Linked DNA regions of Homo sapiens. The protein of the gene in region 2 purifies or fractionates together with the protein of the main gene of each other region. This does not show direct contact. Each region holds a gene or a part of one and is shown on either strand. Other genes may lie near its edges.

Region 1 (3,500 bases), on a different chromosome or scaffold from region 2:
GACGGAAAGCCACCAGGAGGGGGTGGACCGCGCACTGCGCCACCTACGGCAGTGTCTGAAGCAGCCCGGAGGGCTCGGGCCAATGGAGACCCTGGGGTCGGGATACGAGCCTCCCAACCTCTATCCTCTCTGGGGTCTCAGGGGACAGAAATGACCCAGCACAAGAGAAAGTCCCAGGACGAGGACTCCAGCTGGTTCGGGGGGTTTGTAGTAGAGCTGTCCAGAGACGGCCACCAAGGAGGGAGACGGTGACCCAGGGCAGGGGACTTCCCGAGAGAGGCCTGGCTGGCCCCAGGGATGAGGCTTCACAAACAAGCGCATCATTAGGAGAGTCGCAGCTGCAGAGGCTGCAGAGGTCCCAGCAGATCCCCGTGCCCGTCTCCCTGCTGCTCCCTGTACGTGGGTGCGGCACCCACCACGAGCAATGAGCCAGTGTCTACACAGCGCAGCTACTGAAGTCCACGCTTGATTCCGGCTTCCTTGGTTCCCCTCATGCCTTTTCCTGCCCAGCCCTCTGGGTTGGGACAGTTTCCCGTTTTTGACGCCCTGGGCAGTCCTGAGTGGGGCGCCCCTCGAGTGGTCTGCCTGGGGTGGGGGTTGTAAGAGGCCGGGTGCCTGCTCAGACCTTTCCGGCACCGCGAGGAGGCCCTGGCGTTTTGTTCCAAGTGCTTGGTTATCTGGGCCCTCCCACAACCTCCCAGAGGCAGGGAACACACAGAGGACGGGCAGGAGGGGCGGGGGACAGGCCTGTCCCTGTCGCCTTAGGGTCTCTCCCGGTGCTGGGGGAGGGCCGGGGCCTCTGCCTGCCAAGCATGGAGGGCAGCAGTGCACAGCCTGCCACGCGGGGGCCTCCACCTGCGGCCATGGCCCGGCCACCTGTCAGCACACAAGTCACCCCCTATCCCAGGCCCAGAGACTGGGAGAACCCTGACATCAGTCAAGGTCACAGCCAGTCACTAGTGGGAGACGTGGCTCTGGGGACGATGTCCCAGGCAGGAGCGAGACGGCCCAGGTTGTGTCTACCTCCCATCCCACGGCCCTCCTAGGAGACCCTGGGTTTCCCCCACAGGCCACAGGCCGGGCTCCAGCACCGAGGGTGGCCAGGAGCTCACTCCTGACCCAGGGAGGGCAGCGGCAGGGCCAGGCATACAAGCAGGCCAGTGTCACACCAGAGTCCACCGGCTCCTGCCAAGGCGTGGCCCCTCCAGGGATCTGCTCTGGTCCCTCCATCCGGCCAGGTGGCCCGGGCCCACCGCATCCCTGCCCCCGGCGAGCAGGCAGGGGGCACCACAGACGCCGCGGAGGCCTTCCCGAAGGGTCCCAGGCACCGGCCCGCAGCTGCCGTCCCCAGGCCGCCAGCGGTGCGGCCGCACTTACTACTTGGCAGAGTCGGAGAGCTGGTACTCGCGCCTGCGGTCGTAGCATTCCTGGATGCCCGGGTCCTCCCACAGGGTCTTGATGGCACTGACGTACTGATGCTCGAAGGTGGTCACCTTCTCCACGTCCACCTCCCGGATCAGGAGCGCATTGGCCTGCGAGGGCGGGCAGGGGAGACGTCGAGAGCTCGCTGGGGCCACACATCCACCAGAAAGCTTGTGACGGCCCCTCTTCCAGGCCTCGGCTGGCCCGGGCGGCATTCCGCAGGCTGTGCAGTCAGGACCACTGACAGTTCCGTGTGAACACGTGTCAGAAAAACGCGAGGCCGCCTGGCGGTGTGGTTCCTCCGAACAAGGCCCCACAAGCAAAGCCTCCCGGCGGTGCGGTCTGCAGGGTGCCGGGGAGGCCGGGCTTCGATTCACTTCTTAGAGGTGGGGAGGGGACGGTGTGGGGAACAAGCACGTGTAGAACACACACACTTCAAACCCAGGACCCACAGGAGGGCAGTGCAGCGCCGAGCACGACCAAGCACGACGACAGAACTAACCAACAGCCCCAGCACTCGCTGCCTCGAATTCTCCAGACACACCGGGAGGCAGGAAGCCCAGTCACAGGACGTTGCAACCAGCGGCATCGCCTGCAGTGTGCAGCTCCAGACTCGGTTTCTGCCCCGCCGGCTTCTCTCTTTCGTCCGAAAAATGCTTATCAAACATCATCAAGAGCAGATACCACACCCGGTGCTAAGGACGGCGTGTGGCCCCCGAGCTGCCGCACTCAACAGTTTACATGGTGCCCCAACACGAGCCGCCTCCCCCTCACGGAACCCTGGGCGGCGGGTGGCATCAGGCCCCAGCTTGCTGCCCTGTCACAAAGGAAGGCCAACCGCACAGACACGTGCTTGCACACACATGTGAACACCCTTTGGGGCAGACACTGTGGGGGGGCCATCCTTTCCCCTCCTGATGCTCTGTGTCCCCGTCCCCGGGGCGCACAGGCCGACATGACCAGCCACAGTTTGGCTGAGGGACTGGGGAGGGGACATACTGGGTGGGACCCAGATGGGAAAGAAGGGAGCCTTGCCCTGGGCTCTGGGAGCCACGGGGCCCTCCCAGGCCCCCCAGAGTGGAGACTCAGCCCTTGCTTGTCCCCTCTGAGCAACGCTCCCTGCCCCGGACTCCGACTTCAGCCCTCCCCTTGCCCTGCCCCCAGCCTCTCAATCTGGGCTGGGATAAGCACACCTAGGGGGACTTGGAAAAAGAGACACAAACCCCAAAAATCCCACTCCCTGGAAACTTCCAGATTAGACAGCAGCAATCTGCTTCTGCAGAGAGCCAGAGAGCACACCCAGCCTTCCCGACCACACGGACTGTCTCCAGCACTCGGCTCTGCTGCTGCTGCTGAAGCACCATGGGCAACATGGCAGAAATGGGTATGTGCCAATAAAACTTTATCGACAAAATCAGTCTGCAGTTTGCAGATGCGTGTTTCAGAAGCTGATGGAGATCTAAGCCCAAATATGAATATGGACTCTCAGAGAGGGCCACAGCTGGAAGAGATCACAGCGGGAGACAGGGCAAGTGGCAAACCAAGATCTAAGGGCAAGAGCCCTACCCCTGAAAGCAGGGCTACGAAAGCGGGATCAATGGCCCCTCAGCTGAAAGGCCCCAGGGAGGCCACTGGCAGGAGCCACGGCTGCACGGCTGCTGGGCCTGCCCCATAGGGCGGCCACTGGGGCAAACTCTCTGGACGCTTCTCAGAGGGCAAAGCCAGAGTCACCCTGGGACCCAGCAATTCTGCTCCCAGGCGTAGCATGCAACTGAGGGAAGGGAACACATCATCCACATAAACACACGTCCACAGACGGTCACGGCAGCTCCGTTCCCAACAGCCCACACATGAAGGCACTCAAATGTCCTCCAGGGGATAAATGGGCAAATACGCGGTCCCTCCATGCACTGGAACATGACTCAGCCATGAACAGGGACGAGGCTCTGACACAGGCCACTGTGTGGATGCACCTTGAGGACGTCACACTCAGTGAGAGACGCCGGACACAAAAGGCCACATGGCGTGCAATCCCATTTCTATGAAATGTTCAGGACAGACCGATCCACAGAGGCAGG
Region 2 (3,500 bases):
ATTTTTTTTTTTTGAGACAGTTTCGCTGTTGTTGCCCAGGCTGGAGTGCCATGGCATGATCTCGGCTCACCGCAACCTCCCCCTCCCGGGTTCAAGCAATTCTTCTGTCTCAGCCTCCCGAGTAGCTGGGATTACAGGCATGTGCCACCACGCCTGGCTAATTTTGTATTTTTAGTAGAGATGGGGTTTTTCCATGTTGGTCAGGCTGGTCTCAAACTCCCGACCTCAGGTGATTTGCCCGCCTTGGCCTCCCAAAGTGCTGGGATTACAGGCGTGAGCCACCGCGCCCCATCCCAAACTACACATTTTTAAGAGCTCCACTTTCTCCCTTCATATGCTCTGTTCCCTCTCCCCAGAAAACTTATTCTAATGAGGAAAAAAGAGGGAAGTCACTCAAGAAACTATATAGGCTTTAAAAGGGTAGAGAGCAGGGAAATAAGGCAAGAAAAGAAATAAACTCCCAGACTGGAGAGAAAAAAGTAAAACTCTTTGCAGATGACATGATCTTCTATGTAGAGAATCCTAAGAAACCACTTAAAAACTATTAGAACAATGGGGGAAACTATAGTTCAACAAATGGTGCTAGGACAACTGGATAGCCGCATGCAAACGAAATAGAGAATGACTGTTAGTGGGCGTGGAGTTTCTCTTTGATGTGATGAAAATGTTCTGAAATTGGATAATGATATTGGTTGCACAACTTTGTGAATATACTAAAGGAGTGCACCCTGTAAAAGAATAAATTTTCTGGTATATGAATTATATCTCAATAAAAAACCAAAACAATTCAGTCTTTCAACACTAAGCATCATGTGATTTAATTTTCATGATTCTGCAACTAGCGCCAGCCAAGTAATTTCTGCATCTATGTGTAATAATTTAAAATAGAAATGGATGCCAGAAAGAAAACAAAGTAGAAATAAGCTAGAAGAACCCAAGGGCAAAGGAACTAAAGAGTAAAGATGAGGGGCCAGGTGCAGTGGCTCACACCTGTAATCCTAACACTTTGGGAGACTGAGGTAGGTGGATCGTTTGAGCTCAGGAGTTCAAGACCACCCTGGGCAACATAGTGAGACCCCATCTCTACAAAAAAAAAAAAAAAAAGGAGTAAAGATGAGGGAAAAGGGAGTGAAAGTAGCCATCCCACAATCCCTGTATGAGTATTCTTGTCAATGTATAAACATGTTCATTGTTCATAACACTCAAGTTGGTAAAATCAAAGTATGATAAAAATTTTTAATAAAATGCTTGATACCGTAATTGTGTTTAAAAACTTTAGATATTAACATTTAACTATAGTATTTAATAGGGGAAAAAAGGGGCAGGGGTGCATGTGCAAGGGTGCAGACAAGGTTTATGGGCGGTATGAAGGATCAAGAAGCTGGAGTGGGCTGAGAAGGTAAAAGTGCCTTGGACATTAAAAAAGCCTTTTAAGGTATGATTAGAACAAGAACAAGAATCAGGAAGTGATCGGCCCACTCATGGGCTCTTGCTGCAATATTAACAGAAAGCAGAACTACTCAGCTTCCTCCTTTTCCTCAAAGAAAATGCCCCAGAGATGGCAGAAGGGAGCCCAGCTGTGTTCAAGAGGGGATTAAAACCACAGGCTGAGGAGCTCTCCCAGGGCCTGCCACAGGCGAGGTTCAGGAAATCTCTGGCCGGACACATGGATGAAAGAACTTGCATTTCTGCTCAAAGAACTGTATTTGGTGGCTTTTAAGAAATTGTGAAGAATATGAAAAGTATTGGAACACTGGAAGCAGGCAGATGTTCTCATTTTCAAAAAAGCAGGGAAATGGATTCTGAATAGGAACAAAGGCCTGCTTCATTCCCTTGATAAGTTTCTAGACTCAGTAATTAAGGAAAAGGGAAGTGAAGGCATTCACTAATAGGCAGCCTGGTTCATCTATTTTTAAAAAAATAAAATCTCACACAGAAAAACTATGGGTCCTATTTAGTGGTTCTCACACTCATCCAGATACTGGGGCTCCTGAAAATCAATCTTCTGTTCCAAATATTATACCCTTTACAGATCTCTCTAAAATATTGAGATATTTAATTTTTACAGAAAATTAGACTATATTTTCAATATACAATATAAGATCACACCTACAGATGCTAGTGTTCATTTATTCAAATGATCTTGATTTCAGGGTTGGGGCCAGCCATCACAGAAGAGAGTCAACAGGCCACAGCTCTGAGTGACAAGGGCTGTAACACTAGAAACACAGGGTGGCTGGGGGCATAGGAGGGACCCCCTCATTCAGGCTTGCGGGTTGGAAAAGGCTGCCTCCCTGAGAATGCAGCCTAAAAGCTGAGCCCTGAGGAATGAGCAGAGAATTAGCTGCCCAAAGAGGGCCAGGGAGTGAGGGTGGGGAGGTGTCACCCATGAGGCCTCGGTTTCTGGGGTAACTGGGGAGTACAGCTGTTCACTGAGATGGGGATCCAAGAAGAGGAAGGATGGGGCATAATGATAAGTTTAGATTTAGACCTGTCATGTTTGAGTGGACACCAAGGTGGCGATGTCCATGAGGGGTAAGACATGGGTCTGGAGCTCAGGGAGATATCTGGGCTGGTCTGTTGACTTGGGAGTGTCAGCATTTAGTAGCCAGCATCTGGGAAGTAGAAGTCCTTGCACAGGACTCTTAAGTGAGAGGAAGCAGAGCTTGTGGAGACCCTCCGGGGAAAGTACCAAAGAGGTGGGTAATTGCCTGGGAGGGTAGTGGCTCAGTGCTGTCTCAGATCTCTTTAGGTTGCAAGTGACAGAAATCCAACCAAAGCTAGCTTAGATAAAAAGATAAGAACGTTTTCCTGAAACCCATCAGACCAGGATGTGCAAGCTTCAGGCTTGGCCCAGGACTGCAGGAGACACACCAGGACTCTGTTGGCTCTGTGGCCCTCCTCATGTTGTGTTCCTTCTCAGGGGTGGGCAGGCGGCCACCTCCATTTCCAGCCTCGAATTCTGCTGGCTCAGCAGCCCCAGTAAAAGTCTCAGGCTTGAGTCTCATTGGTTTGACCCTGACCATATGCCCATCCCTGAACCAATCCTTAGGGGCAGGGGCATGAAATGTGGGGAGTGGGGAGGTCAGCCCCACCAACCACGTGGCCTGAGAGCTGGGGAAGGCAGCTCCTGAGGATGCTGCTACCAAGAAAAGGGGATACGAGGCAAGTAAAGCAACGATGACCCCCACAAAAGCCAGGGAGAGAGGTGGTGGTCAGTAGTGTCAGATGCTTCCAGGAAAAGGACTGAAACAGAACCAGTAGATTAGCCTTTGGGAGCCAGGTGACCTTGCCAAGAGGTGTGCCTGTGAGTGGTGGTGAAGGAAGCCAGATGGCGCGGGTTGAGGAATGAGTGGGATGTGAGGCGTCAAATTCTCAGCAGCTAGGCCTGGGGGAAGGAGGCCTGGCCACAAGCATCACAGGGGTTTGGGTAAAGACAAGCACAACCTCAGCAGAATGAAAAGTGGACAGAAGGGAAGCCATGGAGAGGGAGCAGCTGG
Region 3 (3,500 bases), on a different chromosome or scaffold from region 2:
GTGGTAAGCTCTTCTGTCAGATGTGTGAGCAGGTCTTTGTGTTCAAATCTAATTAGAGCCTATTTGATACTTTTTAACACTATGCAGAGGTTCTGAAAATGAAAATAACATGGAAATCCTAGGCTAATCATCAGATCATTTTATAGTCTTCCTCCTACAGGATAGAACTGGGAGTGTTGGAGTGAGTCATCCTGTTTTGTTTTGTTTTCATTTTGTTTAAATCATTGTTTGTGTGATGGGTGTGTCCCAAAGAGTACTCAAAATCTCTCTTGGCAAATGTGAATGACTTCGCAGCTGGGCTCTAAATCAGTTCATTATGAACCATGGAATATCTTGGTGATGCGGCCTTTCTGCTCTTATAGAATTCTCTAGGCTGTTGCATAATTTTGTCTCTATTAAGCAGTGAGCAGTTGAAGAAGTATCCTTAATATGCCTGTCTGGAGAACAATTTCAGTATTGTTATCTCCTCCCTGTTACAGGGAAACTTAATAGGTGTAAATGTGGATTTTCAGGATGGTAAAGACCTGACGATGAATCGATTATGGAATATATTAAGGGATGTAGAAATCTGTACTTCTGAGCTGTAGTTGTGTGCATGTGTATGTGTGTGTTGGGGGAACGGGGAAGACACCATTGATATCCTGTTAGAGGCAGAGATTGCAGTGTGGTAGGTTAATAATAAATATTAAATATCCCAATAATAGGGTAGCAAAAAAGAAGGAAGTGAGAGATCCCCGTTTGCTGACTAAAATAGGATCTAGCATATTATGCTTTTAATACAGTACATTTTTTAGGTACACAAGAATTCCTGACTGGTTCTTTTAAATATTTTTCTGCCAGTATTAATATCTCCATTAAAATACATATCCAAGCTCCTATAGTATTTCTTTTATGTATAGGATTGATAAAGTTTCCGTGAACCAATGTCTATATAGAACCGAGAGTCACCTGTTCATGCATTTCGGAATCATTCCTGAGTTACAAGTATATTGGCTTTGGAGTTAACCAAATAACTTCTGTTTAAGAATGAGGCTTGTTTATCAATCAGTTGCCCCCAATAACTCTAAAGCAAAGTGCCTAAAAGCATGCTACAATATATGACAGTAAGTTACCAAGATACAAGGCAGTTACTGTCAGAATTTTAGCTATGATATCTTTATCTGTATATCTTTATGTCTGTGCTTGTTTGTTACATAATCCCTGGATGTAGTATTTTAAACATACTGCATATTTTGGGAGCAGATCTATTCTAACACTTCTGATTTTTTTGAATGTTGTGTCAAGACAAAAAAATATTTTGAGGGCTTCCCTACTATATGCTGGGTACCAGAGTATCTAAAAAGACACAAAAATGGGGAAAAAAATCAACTCTGCCCTAGAAGACCTTATAAACAAGATATGCTTTTGGTCAGAATAAGCCATAGGGGGAAAGGTAAGCCTTTGTTATGTAGGTTGTCATTTCTCTTCTTTAATTTGCCATCCAGTAAAATAAAATTTGCATTTATCAATTACACAAGAGATGTAAGAAGCAAATGTGAATTTATTTCTGATGTTTACATTATAGCTAGAGGAGGACAAGTGTTTATCAATACACATTTTCCACAAGATAAATGCATTATATATATATGAAGAAGTATATGTCATGATGTAATACTTATCAATTTACCACTTCAAAATTATCAAAATAGAAAAGAAAGTAGAATCCTTTGGCAACTCATCAGCTAATTCAGTTCAACCGAATTGAATCTGGTTCTTCAGTTATCTGAACATTACAGATCATTTATTCCATTTTTCCTCAGACATAGCTAATAGTGACTAGATTTTTATATAAAAGTATATTATGTTAATTAGAATAAAATGGCATCGTTTTTATTATCATGTGTCATAATTAAAGTTCCCACAGTAACTTGACATTCAATGTACAGGTACTAAGAACGTCTAAAAATATTGTCCCAGTTCCTTTGATTCCTGTGGTGATGTCTTATGCTACTTTTAAATAATTACAAATTAAAATAATAAAGCTATCATTTTTTCATTAGGACTCCCTAATCACTTGTGAATCTTTTGAAAGTCTAGGTAATTCTATAAGATGAAAGTCAACTTGTACGGTGTTCCTTTCTGAGACCTCTAGTCAAGCCTGATGATAGTATGGGATCATGAGAAAAGTGCTGTTCATTAATTCCTTCATCCATATTAGCCACAGCTATCACTGTCTGTAATTAGGAAGTACTGTCAAAAAAATATTTTTTAATGTTGGGATGTAGTCTCATTACCCCTTTTTTTCCCCAGTTGTACTAATGTATGATAATGTCATTGCCTCTCAGCTTCCTTAATCATTAAGAAAATTCAGAACTACAGAATTCTAGTTTCCCCAGATTTTTTGGTTTTGGTGAGACAAAACTGAAATAAACTCCAGAAACATTTTGTTCTTGGTTTAGAAGTCTGATGTTCATAACTTTAATCCAAAGCAGACTTTGTTGTGCCTCCCTCCCTTGGTATATATTTGTGAGAAAAACCTAGGAATGGATTCTGACAGCTTTTCTTTCTATCCCAGGAAACTGTGGAAAATGCATTGCAGACCACAGACAAAAGCAGCTAAGGGAAGCATTTTAGATTATTGCTTTTGCTTTTTAATATTTCTAAAACCTTATAAATCTTCATAATTTTATGTAGGTCTGCTTTTGTCTGCCTAGATTCTCAGCCTTTCTATTGTTTGGGGAATGAATTTCTTTTTTCCTTCAAAGAAGGAAATACATTATCAAATAGTGGCTAGAATACCCAGGGTGGTAGAGCTGTGTTGATTTGCGTATTCCCTTTACTGTCTTATTGATGTGTGTATTCCCTTTGCTGTCTTATTTTCCCTGTGATAACACACCAGCATGGAATCCACTATTCTGCTGTAATCCTTTCATGGGTATGTTATTTCAGTGCTCCTGAAAGCCCAAAGCACACAATAAGACATGCTTATAACATATTTTAGTTTATCAGTGTGTATCCAAACACTGCCTTTTAATCTTTATTTTTCTGATTTTCTGTTTCATGAATATCTGAGCACTACTACAAAGATGTTTTCTCAGACATTGTCTCAATGACTGTCTTCCAGGCTAAGCTCTTTATAGAATCTCAAAGACTGAGACCTTTTTCTCCTCCATGTCCTCTTTGAATGTGAGCTTTGAATTTATTAATCATCTTGAAATGGTCATGAGGAATTATGTTATCATTTTATTAAAACGTCAAGATAGTTCTCCCTACCCTAGGCCCTCCTTGATCAAGGTGGATTCCCTGACCTTGGTTTCCATAAACATGTATTCATCCTTCAAACCTGATTTTTGAAGTTGCTCAATTGATAAAAGGAAAGCATAGACGTTTATAATACCTTAGCACTTTATACCCAAAACTTGCTGAAGCTGCTACTCATCAGAATCTACCAGCTGACCTCACCGTGGCGGGGACAGATCAGGTTTGCTGGTGTGCGTCATAACGATGAGGTTACAGGAATG
Region 4 (3,500 bases), on a different chromosome or scaffold from region 2:
CTGTATTCAGCTCCATTGGAAAGGTAAAATAATAGTAATAATTTTCTGTGTTTCGGATATGGAGCCTTGGTTGAGAAAGGCTGTCATGTCTATCTTTATACACATATTACCTCCGTTTTTCATCAGCTTTAGGAGGTAGGTATTATCCCCATTTTTACATTTGAGGAAACTAAGGCACAGGGTATCTCATTAACTTGCCTAACGGCATGCAGATTTCAAGTTATGGAGCCAGGGCTCCTACCCCAGGCAGGCTGAGTTTCCGGAGTCACCTTCACCACACTGCAGGTAATGCGCATCAAGGCTGGCTGGAGAACTTGTATATCAAGCACTTTTACAGAACTATATCCGTAACTCAGTTCAGCACAGTGTGTATACTGCATATACACAGCATAGCTTAGTTCAAGAATACAATATGGCCTCATTCTCTAGATCTCAGAAGAGTAAATAAAAAATACCAGAGGTGATTAACATTCAGAGCCATCACTGCCCCAGAATCACAGATATGGGCTGTTAGCAGAGAGACTGGGACTGCTAGGCATGGTTGGGGAAATATGGGACCACAGAGGAAAAGTTGAGCTCCAGTTCACAACTTAGTGTTACTGTAACACAACTCAAGACGCCAACATTCTAAACTTAACCTCGAAGAGATTCAAGAAGGTTAAACAAGATAACCTCTCATATTTATTCAAATTCTGGAGTTCTGTGAAATATCTGAATATTCTATGGGAAGGAAGTATCCAAATATCAAGGCCTGCCTTTTGACCACCTCTGACTTCCTGAATACAAAGTAATGGTTTATCAAAGACGACTGATTCAAAGCTGGTCATTTAGATATAAATTACACCAAAGATTTATGAATGGCTTACAACTCTTGTCAGTCCAGACATGTAGCTCCTGTGCGAGTTCAGGAATCACCAAAAAAGTTCGCCACCCTTGCCGTTTCTTTGATTTTAAAATGTCCCCAAAAATGTGATCTCCAATATACAAAATGTCTTTTCCCTTGGCTCCCAACAGGTCACAGATCGTATCAGAAGAACCTGAACCAACAGAGTGAACAATGAGAAAACTGTCCCTATATTAAAATCAGCATTCCAATAGTATTTAACCATTAAATACTATGATTCATTTTATTCTTATATGAGGAACAGACTAGGAAGAATAGACAAAGACTCACCATTCTCTTTTTACTGCCTTCTAAGACAAGGCCTTCAGCTCCACTGTGCTGACCAGAGCTCTTGCTCACCAAATCCAAGAGCAACAAAACTACATCCTCAGCTTAGTGAAAATAACCTTCAAAACAGCCACTGCCAATTTCATCACAAATCTGCCATTAAGCTGGCTTTACTCAACTGTTTATAACTCCAACATACTATGTACCTATACCCATGGAACTCCTTGAGAAACCCTTGAGAACATATTGAGAAGTACCCCCAAGTGATTCGAAGCACTGAGAAAAAGCCTCCAATAGGATTTAAAAAAAAAACTGATCATTTTAGTGAAAATCAGATTCATTAGGATATACTAACAACTGCTCAAACCCAGACTCCTATTGCATTAAGAGGTGACTAAACTATTTACCTTCAGTAGATGACATCTTAGACTACTAAACAGTATATGTGGCACTTTGCTGAGAGATTACCAAAGCTTTCACTGTGAGGTCTGAGCAAAGACATTAAATAAAGGGAAGTCTGTGACTTACCTCCTGAGTAGACGATACCATGCTGTAGGGGCCCTGTGTAGGTACCAATTTTCAGCTTGCCAGTTTTCTGTATGAAGAATATGGATTTTGTAATACTTTATCATCCTATCACAATCCTCCCCTCACCCCACAACCCTCCCATCCCACCCCCCACCACCAGTGCTACTTGGCCAGACAGCCAAATGAATGGCACTTACTCTTTTCAATTAGTGGGTTTGTTTGACTGTTTCAGTTAAGACCAAAACTCTTAATTTCAAAAGAGAGATACGGCTAATTAAAAAAAAAAAATTCCTGTTTCCTTATGTAGAGTAAGAGTGGGGGAAGGAGAAACATTAAGGACAATGTGCTAGCAAGACAGATCATTCTCATGACTTACAGTATCCACCTGACGCAGTACTGTGCCTTCTCCAAAAAAGAGTGGTTTCCGTGCATCCACCAAGATCAAGTCAAAGTAGGACTGCCATGGTCGATGGGAGCTCCCAGGCTGGTGAAGGAGAAACAGCAAAAGTTGAAACATCACTCCTTACCTTAAGGCATTACTATTTAATCTCACTCAGATGCAAGGAATATAAAAATACTAAGTATAGCCAGAAGATCCCACTATTTTATTTTTTAAAAAGGTATTGTGTCAGCCAGGCACAGTGGCTCACACCTGTAATCCCAGTACTTTGGGAGGCCGAGGCGGGCAGATCACAAGGTCCGGAAATCAAGACCATCCTGGCCAACATGGTGAAAACCTGTCTCTACTAAAACTACAAAAATTAGCCGGGCGTGGTGGCGGGCGCCTGTAGTCCCAGCTACTTGGGAGGCTGAGGCTCGAGAATCGCTTGAACCTAGGAGGGGGAGGTTGCAGTGAGCCGAGATCGTGCCACTGCACTCCAGCTTGGCAACAGAGCAAGACTCCATCTCAAAAAAAAAAAAAAAATTGTGTCTATGTATTATAAGCCATATCCTTTGGGAAGCAGACAAGATATAAATAATAAATAACTGTAATAACACATTCTATACATTAAATCATTTCATCTACTACTAAATTACAATACTTATTTTACAGCACTTTATGAAAGTGTGCTCACCTGAAATTTGCTAAAAGGAGCTCAAAAGAGCTAGGGAGAGATGCAAATCAATACCCAAGGGACAGATTAAGACAGAGGCAGGCATCAGAGCTAAAGTATACAAACTAACATGGAACTATTAGGAAATTTTACTGGTTACATTCTCAGAATGATGGCTCTAGGTACACACTGGCTTTTGGCTCACAGTGTAAGCTAATCACAATACTGAGTTATGCCCATTAAAATCATGACTATCCTGAAATGGAACCCTGGCATTAACCTTTTAAGACCAACCTGAAGGGCACTGCACACTGTGATTTCAGGTGTTCTCAAAACAGGGATTTGCTGATGTTTATTCACTAAAGTCTAGGACTAAAATTCTGTAAGTATGTGACTAAGTTGCAAGGAGTATTCCTTAAACCTAAGTGCAGCCGTACTGCAGAAATGAAGACTTCTCTGCTAAATATCAAGGCTGAGTGCTCTCTTGGCAAAAACTTAGCAACAACTAATACAAAATCTAGAAGTTGTCAAGAATACACATACATTTTCTGTTTCTGTTAATCAAATATCATCCACAACCTGAAAATTCCTTTCATTGCCACACAAACTTAATTTTGCATAGAACTTCTTGGGCATAAAATTATTCTGATCCCATCCTACTAAATATCACATGAATATCCCTTTTATTTCTGTCTATTAAGTATTCAAGTTGCGGACTCTAAATTAGCAATTTGATTTTAAATTCT

Evidence for each region. The genes of interacting proteins can lie anywhere in the genome.
Region 1: the proteins of EHD4 (region 2) and GNA11 fractionate together in Homo sapiens (co-fractionation; one large-scale study listed by BioGRID). This does not show direct contact.
Region 3: the proteins of EHD4 (region 2) and GNAQ fractionate together in Homo sapiens (co-fractionation; one large-scale study listed by BioGRID). This does not show direct contact.
Region 4: the proteins of EHD4 (region 2) and NT5C2 fractionate together in Homo sapiens (co-fractionation; one large-scale study listed by BioGRID). This does not show direct contact.

Annotation. Positions count from the first base shown.
Region 1 is NC_000019.10:3,111,362-3,114,861, reverse strand, and holds part of GNA11 (guanine nucleotide-binding protein subunit alpha-11), read right to left. Parts: intron 1,533-3,500; coding exon 1,378-1,532; intron 1-1,377. UniProt on the Homo sapiens protein: Guanine nucleotide-binding proteins (G proteins) function as transducers downstream of G protein-coupled receptors (GPCRs) in numerous signaling cascades.
Region 2 is NC_000015.10:41,966,058-41,969,557, reverse strand, and holds part of EHD4 (EH domain-containing protein 4), read left to right. Parts: intron 1-3,442; exon of another isoform or gene 3,443-3,500. UniProt on the Homo sapiens protein: ATP- and membrane-binding protein that probably controls membrane reorganization/tubulation upon ATP hydrolysis. Plays a role in early endosomal transport.
Region 3 is NC_000009.12:77,790,812-77,794,311, reverse strand, and holds part of GNAQ (guanine nucleotide-binding protein G(q) subunit alpha), read left to right. Parts: intron 1-3,500.
Region 4 is NC_000010.11:103,092,273-103,095,772, forward strand, and holds part of NT5C2 (cytosolic purine 5'-nucleotidase), read right to left. Parts: intron 2,184-3,500; coding exon 2,076-2,183; intron 1,767-2,075; coding exon 1,700-1,766; intron 1,038-1,699; coding exon 867-1,037; intron 1-866. UniProt on the Homo sapiens protein: Broad specificity cytosolic 5'-nucleotidase that catalyzes the dephosphorylation of 6-hydroxypurine nucleoside 5'-monophosphates.